Regions from separate parts of the Homo sapiens genome. Here region 1 is linked to region 2. The links come from fine-mapping of genetic effects on gene expression. A gene starts in region 2. The other region holds a variant in brackets. All regions are shown on one strand. Distances are from middle to middle. Region 1 has its middle 22 kb from the start of SPACA3. Region 2 holds the start of SPACA3 (sperm acrosome associated 3).

Evidence for each region. PIP is the estimated chance that this variant, and not a neighbour inherited with it, causes the effect. A credible set is the group of variants that fine-mapping cannot tell apart.
Region 1: its variant is the best candidate, but not a certain one, in a credible set for the expression of SPACA3 in tibial nerve (GTEx, PIP 0.52).

The regions. Positions count from the first base shown.
Region 1 is chr17:32,967,343-32,972,720 of GRCh38, forward strand. No RefSeq gene overlaps it. Among named protein-coding and RNA genes, the nearest start is that of SPACA3, 22 kb to the right of the region's middle. The variant A/C (reference allele first, on the strand shown) is at 3,126.
Region 2 is chr17:32,989,423-32,994,800 of GRCh38, forward strand. It overlaps SPACA3 (sperm acrosome associated 3), which reads left to right and starts at 2,425. Exons shown (of 5, transcript NM_173847.5): 1 at 2,425-2,550. The coding sequence starts at 2,517.

The DNA of each region.
Region 1 (5,378 bases), 22 kb before region 2:
AAATCCTCAATAAAATACTGGCAAACTGAATCCAGCAGCACATCAAAAAGCTTATCCACCATGATCAAGTGGGCTTCATCCCTGGGATGCAAGGCTGGTTCAACATATGCAAATCAATAAATGTAATCCATCATATAAACAGAACCAAAGACAAAAACCATATGATTATCTCAATAGATGCAGAAAAGGCCTTTGACAAAATTCAACAGCGCTTCATGCTAAAAACTCTCAATAAACTCGGTATTGATGGGACGTATCTCAAAATAATAAGAACTATTTATGACAAACCCACAGCTAATATCATACTGAATGGGCAAAAACTGGAAGCATTCCCTTTGAAAACTGGCACAAGACAGGGATGCCCTCTCTCACCACTCCGATTCAACATAGTGTTGGAAGTTCTGGTCAGGGCAATCAGGCAGGAGAAAGAAATAAAGGGTATTCAATTAGGAAAAGAGGAAGTCAAATTGTCCCTGTTTGCAGATGACATGATTGTATATTTAGAAAACCCCATCGTCTCAGCCCAAAATCTCCTCAAGCTGATAAGCAATTTCAGCAAAGTCTCAGGATACAAAATCAATGTGCAAAAATCACAAGCATTCCTATACACCAATAAGAGACAAACAGAGAGCCAAATCATGAGTGAACTCCCATTCACAATTGCTTCAAAGAGAATAAAATACCTAGGAATCCAACTTACAAGGGATGAGAAGGATCTCTTCAAGGAGAGCTACAAACCACTGCTCAATGAAATAAAAGAGGACAAAAACAAATGGAAGAACATTCCATGCTCATGGATAGGAAGAATCAATATCATGAAAATGGCCATACTGCCCAAGGTAATTTATAGATTCAATGCCATCCCCATCAAGCTTCCAAGGACTTTCTTCAGAGAATTGGAAAAAAACTGCTTTAAAGTTCATATGGAACCAAAAAAGAGCCTGCATTGCCAAGACAATCCTAAGCCAAAAGAACAAAGCTGGAGGCATCATGCTACCTGACTTCAAACTATACCACAAGGCTACAGTAACCAAAACAGCATGGTACTGGTACCAAAACAGAGATATAGACCAACGGAACAGAGCAGAGCCCTCAGAAATAATACCACACATCTACAACCATCTGATCTTTGACAAACCTGACAAAAACAAGAAATGGGGAAAGGATTCCCTATTTAATAAATGGTGCTGGGAAAACTGGCTAGCCATACGTAGAAAGCTGAAACTGGATCCCTTCCTTACACCTTATACAAAAATTAATTCAAAATGGATTAAAGACTTAAGTGTTAGACCTGAAACCATAAAAACCCTAGAAGAAAACTTAGGCAATACCATTCAGGACATAGGGATGGGCAAGGACTTCATAACTAAAACACCAAAAGCAATGGCAACAAAAGCCAAAATAGACAAATGGGATCTAATTAAACTAAAGAGCTTCTGCACAACAAAAGAAACTACCATCAGAGTGAACAGGCAACCTACAGAATGGGAAAAAATGTTTACAATCTACCCATCTGACAAAGGGCTAATATCCAGAATCTACAAAGAACTTAAACAAATTTACAAGAAAAAATCAAACAACCCCAACAAAAAGTGGGTGAAGGATATGAACAGACACTTCTCAAAATAAGACATTTTTGCAGCCAACAGACACATGAAAAAATGCTCGTCATCACTGGTCATCAGAGAAATGCAAATCAAAACCACAATGAGATACCATTTCACACCAGTTAGAATGGTGATCATTAAAAAGTCAGGAAACAACAGGTGCTGGAGAGGATGTGGAGAAATAGGAACACTTTTACACTGTTGTTGGGACTGTAAACTAGTTCAACCATTGTGGAAGACTGTGGCGATTCCTCAAGGATCTTGAACTAGAAATACCAGTTGACCCAGCCATCCCATTACTGGGCATAGACTCAAAGGATTATAAATCATGCTGCTATAAAGACACATGCATACGTATGGTTATTGCAGCACTATTCACAATAGCAAAGACTTGGAACCAACCCAAATGTCCATCAATGATAGACTGGATTAAGCAAATGTGGTACATATACACCATGGAATACTATGCAGCCATAAAAAAGGATGAGTTCATGTCCTTTGTAAGGATATGGATGAAGCTGGAAACCATCATTCTCAGCAAACTATCGCAAGGACAGAAAACCAAACACCGCAGGTTCTCACTCATAGGTGGGAATTGAACAATGAGAACACTTGGACACAGGAAGGGGAACATCACACTCCAGGGCCTGTTGTGGGGTGTTGGGGGTGGGGGCGAAGGGATAGCATTAGGAGATATACCTAATGTAAATGACGAGTTAATGGGTGCAGCACACCAACATGGCACATGTATACATATGTAACAAACCTGCACGTTGTACACACGCACCCTACAACTTAAAGTATATATGTAAAAAAAAGAACAGTGTAAGAGGATATTGAAAACTCCCCTATCCACTCCACACAGCAGGCATCTAGCATGTATCCTCTTAGGGAAGTTCCCATGGGACAGGGAGAGACTGGCTTTGTAAATGCTCCTGTTACAGGTACTGAAGTTAGGAATTTCAAGAAGGAAATGAAACCACTCCTAGAAGATCCCCTCAGTTTAGCAGACCAGCTGTACCAAATCCTAGGACCCAGCTTTTACACCTGGGCTAAAATTATTCTATTATAAATATACTGTTCACAGGAGAAGAAAGGGGAATGATTAGGAGAGCAGTCATGACCATCTGGGACAGGCAACACTCTCCTGGGCAAGGGTTCTTGCCAGCCAAACAAAAATTCCCAAATGTCATTCCCAAATTGGATAATAAAGATCCCAGGGACTGGGCCCAAATGGAGGAATGAATAATTAGAAGAGATCAAAGAGTCCACTCCTAGGGCATAAAATGTCGTAAAGGCATTTGAGATTCAACAAGAAAAAGAGGAAACTCCCTCTGCATTCCTGCAGAGGCTCAGAGATCAGATGAGAAAATATTTTGGATTAAATCTGGAAGAACCAGTGGGCAAGGCCTTTTAAAGGTTAGCTTTGTGACTAAAAGCTGGCCTAGCAGGCCAGGGAGTGCAGCTGCAGGCGTGGGGGTGGCAGGAGCCGCAGAGCCAGAGCAGACAGCCGAGAAA[A/C]AGGTGGACAGTGTGAAAGAACCAGTGTGAGTAAACCCCCAATAAGAAACTAATGTCTGTATTATGCAAAAGGAGTCACTGGGGATCCAAGTCTCTGTATAATGCAATACTTAGGAATTATGGGTGTATAGGGATTTATACCCTCATTAAACAAGTATGTGGAAGTTGTGTAGCTTGTCAAAGGATAAACAAAAAGATAATGAGAAAACAGGCCACGGGAGGAAGACCTCCCAGATTAAGACAATTTCAAAGCATTGAAGTAGATACCACAGAAATGCCCTAAGTAGGAAGACTAAAGTATTTACTGGTGATCATAGATCACCTTCCTGGCTGGGTCTTTCCCCTTTCAACAGCCACCACCAGGAATGTGGTCAAAATAATATTAGAACAATTGTACCCTAGATTTGGCCTGGTGGAAAATACTGATTCAGACAATGGGAGCCACTTTTTCTCAAGGTTGTTAAGGGGAATTATGGAAGGTTTACAAATTAGATGGGATTATCACACCCTTTGGCATCCCCCTTCCTCTGGAAAGGTAGAAAGAATGAATCAAACACCCAAAAAGTGTATCATCAAACTAATCTTAGAAACTAAAATGCCTTGGACAAAATGTCTTCCAATAACACTCCTTAGGATTAAGACAGCCCCAAGAAAAGACTTGGGATTGTCTCCCTATGAGTTATTATATGGGCTCCCATATTTGGGCAGAGCTACAGATCTCCCTACTATGGAAACCAAGGATCAATTTTTTTTTGATCAATTCTTAAGATATTATATACTGGCCATATCCTCTACCCTGTTATCCCTTAGGTTAAAAGGACTTCTGACTCAAATTCTGCCTCTTGAGTTTGTGGTTTACCACTTCCAGCCTGGTGACTTGGTGCTGATTAAGACTTGGAAAGAAGACATGCTGCACCCAAGCTGGGAAGGTCCTTATCAAGTGCTCCTGAGCACTGAGACAGCTGTGCAAACAGCTGAATGGGGGTGAACTCAGTATACTTGAGTCAAGTAACTGGTAAAAGATACCCCAGAAGGGAGGGGAAAAAACCCGGTGAAAAGTGCATGGGTCACCTGAGGAACCCTTAAAGTTAACTCTGAGAAAAATCTAAAAAGAAAACATGAGCTGGTCCCATTTCTGGAAGTTAATATGGCTGGGATAGGCTACTATACAAGAAGCAGAAGGTCAAAATGGAAACTGGCAGGGGACTCCTCCCTATCCAATCAGGTTGGTAGTTAATATAACCCAGATGGTAGCACCCCAAACTATAAGATTTAATGCCTGCCAGGTCTTACCTTGTGGGAATTTGGAAAATTAGAGACAGCTCTCCCAGGTGAATAAATATCTTTGCCCTGAGTCAAATGCAGGTTACAGTAGGGCATCACCCTGCCCCAGCTGGGATGATGTATGGTGGACTACCCAATTTGAGGGTTGGGCAGTAAACATGGGGTGGGAAACTCTGAGCTGAAGACCTTTGAGGAATAAACTACCTCTGTCCAAGAGCTCCCCACCAAATAACTGCCAGAATTTAGAATGCAATCCTATACTCATCACCATTGACAATCCAGCTGTTCTAGACCAAGAACCAGAAGTAGCATCCTATGTACATAAGTTAGGGGCAGACATCACAGGGAAAGACCCCTAGGGTGGTTTGTTCTCAAACTAATCAATAACTCAACCTCCCATTTGCCTGGGACTACTGCAACCCCAGACCCTAACAAACACTTTAGTCCACCAAATAATGACCCTAAAAGGGTAAAAATAATTGAGGTAAAGTATTTAAGGCAAATCATAGAAATTGAGACAGTTTACAGGGATGTGAATGTCTGGGTCTAATGGGTCAAATTTTCGGTATAAGCCCTCAAGAAGAGTAATTGCTATGTGTGTGCTGCAGGACAACCTCAGGCAAAAGTGGCTCCGTTTCCCCTAGGATGGGATACCAGTCCTGAAGGAATGCGTTGTATGTTGGCTCTATACGAGGATAAGGATGCATGGGAAATGAGACTTCTAGGAGTCTGTCGTTACTCTTTCCTGCATTGCAGAGGTCAGATCCCACAGCAATCCCCTCATTCTCTATAGGGAATATGAACTACTCCTCTTGCCTCTCTAGGCAGGGGGCAGGTTCAATAAGCCCATGGGAGAACTCTCGACTTGTACCCAATTCCTAAACATCACTGGTGAGGCAAAGGCAATTACTCAGCTCTCCATATACCCCAGGCTGATGTCTGATGGTATTGTGGGAAAGGAATCTCCAT
Region 2 (5,378 bases):
GGCTTAAAAAAGAAGAAATTTCTGACATATGCAACAATATGGATGAGATTTAAGGACAATATGCAAAGTGAAATATGCCAGTTACAGAAAAGGAAATAATTCTACTTTTATCAGGTACCTAGAATAGTCAAATTCATGGAATCAAAGAGAGGAATGGTGGTCACCAGGGGCTGGCAGGAGGAGAAAACAGGGAGTTACTAATCAATGAGCATAAAGATCCAGTCAGGTGGCTGGGTGTGGTGGCTCACGCCTGTAACCCCAGCACTTTGGGAGGCCAAGGCAGGTGGATCACCTGAGGTCAGGAGTTCGAGACCAGCCTGGCCAACATGGTGAAACCCTGTCTCTACTAAAAATACAAAGATTAGCCAGGCGTGGTGGTGCATGCCTGTAATCCCAGCTACTTGGGAGGCTGAGGCAGGAGAATAGCTTGAACGCAGGGGGCAGAGGTTGTAGTGAGCCGAGATCATGCCACTTCACTCTAGCCCTGGCAAAAGAGTGAAACTCCATCTCAAAAAACAAAAAACAAAAAACAAAAAAAAAAAAAGAAAAGAAAAAAAGAAAAAAAAGAAAATCCAGTCAGGCAAGATGAATGAGCTCAAGAGAGCTGCTGTACAGCAGTGTCCTCTACAGTCAACAATAATGGATTGCATATTAAATATATGTTAAGAGGGTAGATCTCCTACTAAGTGTTCTTACCTCAATAAAAAAATGAAAGAAAAAAATACTGGTGCTGATGCTGGGCCATCCCTCAATTTTAACTTGGTTGTCCTGGGGTGGGGCCCAGACAGATAGGGTGGACATGGTGCAACCAGACACTTTTATGGCTGTGCTCTGCACTTAGTAGTAATTACTATTATTTATTGAGCACCTGGGGTACTAAGCACTTTGTTGCTGTTTCATTGAGCCTTCCTAGTACCCTGTGAGGTTGGTGTTGTCATCCCCGCTTGAGAATCAAGGAATCAGAAAGTGAGGCTGTTTTCTCTAGGTCATCCACCTGGAAGTCACTAGCGCCTGTGTTCAGCCCTGGTCAGCCTGACCCCAAAGCCTATGCTCTAGCTGCTGTGCTGTGGGACTCAGGCTCCTGTGGGACACAGACGTGGGCACCACATGCCCTTTCCTTCCAATTCTCTGTCCTTTAAGTTTTAGGGTCAATAGGGTAACCTTTGCCCTGCACCTGTCCACACTGAATGGCCATCATCCAGGTGGAGAAGGGAGTGGCTTGTGGCTCAGCATTAAGGAAGAACTTTCTGGCACTCAAAGGAGCTTCATGGTGAGATGGGCAGCCTGGAAAAGCAGAGGGCAACCACCACCATCCCTAGGAACCCACCACCATCCCTGGGCACCTACCCCCATCCCTGCACATCCCTCACAATCCTTGGGCACACATCACCATCTCTGGGAATCTACCACTATCCTTGCACACTTACCACCGTACCTGCACACTGACCACCATCCTACACACTCACCTCTGCCTCTGCGCACCCACCGCCATTCCTGAACATCCACCACCATCCCTGGGCACCCAACACTACCATCCCTGCACATCCACCACTGTCTCTGAACACCCACCACCATCCCTGCACATGCACCACCATCCTGGGGCACCTGCTACCATCCTTGGGCACCCACTTCCATCCATGCACACCCATCACTGTGCCTGGGCACCCACCAACATCCCTGCACACCCACCACCATCCTGGGGCACCCACTGCCATCCCTGGGCACCCACTACTGTCCCTGCACACCCACCACTGTGCCTGGGCACCTACCACCATCACTGCATATCTGCCACCATCCCTGGGCACCCACTACCATCCTTGCACATCCACCACTGTTCTTGCACACCCACCACTGTCCCTGGGCACCCACCACAATGCCTGCATATCCACCACTATTTCTGGGCACCAACCACCATCCCTGCACATCTATCACCATCCCTGGGCACCCACCATCATCCCCGTGCACCCACTACCATCCCTGCACACACACCACCATCTCTGGGCACCCACTACCATCCTTGCACACGCACCACTGTCCTTGCACACCTGTTAACATCCCTGGGTACCCATCACCATCTCTGTACATCCATCACCATCCCTAGGTGTCTACCATTATCCCTGGATAATCATCTGAAAGATCTGTTGGGAGAGGAAGTGTCATCCCTCAGTGTAGTGTGTGTGTGTGTGTGTGTGTGTGTGTGTGTGTGCGCGCGCGCATGTGTGTATGTGTGTGTGTGTGTGGGGCAGAGATGTGCAAGGGGGCTGGGATTAGATATCCTGCTCTGCCTCTGGACCCTGAGTGGAAGGGCTCAGGTGGGCTAGTCAAAGCTCTGTGGTGGCGCTGTTTGTGGAAGATGAGCTCACAGAGCTGGAGTTCTAGAAGGCCCTCCGTTGGCCTGGAGCCTGCCTTCCCCATTGTTCTCTTAACACTGGGTGCCTGGGGCCCTGGCAAGGTTGTGGGGGACATCTTGAGCTGAAGCAGGGTTTTGAGCCACTGCTGCTGCTGCCATTGTCACCATGGTCTCAGCTCTGCGGGGAGCACCCCTGATCAGTGAGCCCCCTTTCCCTTCTTCCTGGGGCTGTTAACAGGGGCGCTGGGTTGGTCTGGCCAGAGACCAGGTGGAGAAAAACAAGGTGGTGGTTAGGGTGGGGTTATCCTGGCCTGGAAGAGTGACCAGCTGAGAGAGGAGAGAGAGAGAGAGAGAGAAACTCTGGAGCTGTTGTGAAATGCTCAGGATGGAATTCCTTTTAAGTCACTTTTCTACAAAAAAAAAAAAAAAAAAAAAATCAAAAACAGTCCATGTGTAGCAGTCAATTTAGTTTCCTCCTCTACAACTTAGGGATATTAACCCCACACCTTTCAATTGCTGAGAGGATTGGATGAGATTAAGTTGGAAAAGCTCTGGGAAAGGCCTGGCACAGTGTTCAAAGACTTGACAAACTCCACCAGGTTGGCTGCCTCCTCCTTCTCACTCCCCTCGCGGTGAGAAGAAGGTCTCATGTCCCTGTGGCCACGCCTTTTGTGGACTTGAGTTTCAGAAGCAGCCACAGAGCAGCTACTCCATGCCAGCAACTCTGCAGATAAATAAGACATGCAGATAAATAAGACCAGCCGCCGTTCTTCAGAAGTTAACTTTGTGGTGGGAAAGACTGACATCTATTCCAGCCTCGTGTGACAGAGGATGTGGAAGATCGGGTGTGTGAGAGTGTGGGGGGTGGTGGCATGCCAGGAGACTCTCACTGGGGAACACACCTCTGATAAGACCCTTCAAGTATGAGTCAGAGTTAACCATGTAGAGGAAAGGAGAGGGTGAATGTTCTAGAAAGCAAGGTCATTGTGAGAGAACAAGGTGGCACTGCTGAAACATAACGTGTGAATGAGGGAGTGGGCCGCAGGGCTGGGCTGTGAAGGGTCGTGAAGGGCCGTGTGGACCTCGAAGGGGCAGTTATGGTGGGAGCCATCCAAGGTGTCACAGGGCTGGGCTTTTCATTTAACAAATTTGTTCTGATGGATGTGTATAGAATAGCTTGGAAGAGTGGTTGAGACATGATACAAGAAGACCATGAAGGAAGCCAGGATGGAGGTGTGAACCTAGGAAAGGACGGTGCTCTCGGAGGGAAGGTGGAATCCACAGGACATTGGGACTGATTGGTTGGAACTGGGTGAAAGATGTCATGGGGAAGGAGTGAAGAATGACATTCATATTTCCAGTTTGGGTAAATGTGTGGCCCATCATGTTTTAAAGCACATAAGGAAAGTCACAAGGCAGAAGAAGGCATTGATGGAAACAGTGGTTCTGTTTAGATGTGCTGGGTTTGAGGTGCCTGCAGGGCATTCAAGTGGAAGTGTCCTGCCAGTAGCTGCCTCTGAGGTCTTGGGGAAGATGCCACAGGGGTTGCCAGCCTTCAGGCGGTGGCTAACAGCAGGGCTGCCCAGGGGGTTTCCTCAAAGTGGAAGAGAAGAGGGCTCAAGGCAGGAAGGCCTTAGAAAGCATATCAGCGTTTATGGCCTGGGCAGAAGTGAATTCCACGGAGGATAAGGAGGAGAGTCAGCCAGAGAGGGAGGAGGAAACCTGGGAGAAGGGAGCATCGTGGAAACCAGGAGAGGCAAGCCTTTCAACAGCGGGTGGCGGACGGCATGAGTACAGCTGAGAGCTCCCATGAGACAGAGTCGAAGGGGGCCTCCTTGGACCCGCAGAGCAGTTTCAGCGCGCGGTGATGGCAGGGAGGCCAATTCACCAGGTTGGAAAACAAGCGGGAGGGAGAAAGTGGCGATTTTCCCCAGGAGTTTGGGCGAGAAGAGGGGGAAAGAGACAAGGGAGTAGCAGTCAGCATGAGACTTGAGGGAAGGCATTTAGAAGATGGAGACTGAGAAAGTCTCTACGAGCAGGGGAAGGAGGAGCAGGAGGGGAACGGTGCTAGCGCGCCGGGAGAGGAGGGACAACGGATGGAGCAAGGCTTGGTGATGGGAAGGACAAATCTAGAGCTTAGAGGGAAGATGGGCCTGCATGAGATTGGAGGCCCCGTACCCAAACAATGACGGGGTGGAGATGAGGGCGAGGAGGCTACTGATGAGTTTGCAAGTGAGCAGGGCTAAGGCAGAAAGAGGAAGAAATTCCACAAGTGAGCACCTTGCTTTTCTTAGTGCAGCAGGAGACGAGATCATGTTCTGAGAGCCAAGGGGTGGGACAGCGTGGCGTGCTAAAGGACAATACTGAGGGTTTTCATTTCCTGTGAGGGAAATGGGAGAGAGAAGTCTGAGCAGAGACAAGCGCGAGTACCAGTGTTAGTTGTAGTTCATAACAGAAACAACAACTCACTTATTTTTAGTGCCAAGAGCTACGCTGTGCCCACGCCTTTTCTCATTTATTCTTCCAACAATCATATGAGGCAGGTGTTACTCACGTCCTCATTTTATAGAGGAAGAAACAAGCCTCAGGGAGGGCCCAAAATCAGAGATGGAGCAAGGAGCAGAGGGGGGCTTCCAACCCGAACCTTGCTGCAAAGCCATGACCTCAACCACTTTGTCATCCTCGGGGGCATTCAAGGTCCCGTGGAGGTTGGAGACCAGGGACACCAATTGGCACAAACAAGAGTTTGTACAACTCTTTCACTTTTTGACTCTGTGAAGGTGGAGAGCAGGTGTGGAGGCGCAGAGGTCAAGAGAAGCATGGGAAGGCTTGTCAGAGGTGGTGGGCAGTGGGATAGGAGCTCACAGAGGTGGGGAAATGCGGGTGAGGACAAGAAGCAGGGATGACCAGGGCAGGGGAGGGACTGGCTGAGACACAGAGGAACTGGAGGGGACTAGGTCTGGGGAGATGAAGGAGCCCTGATGCTGTGACACCCAGGTGCTAATGTCCTCTGTGATTTGGGGGACTG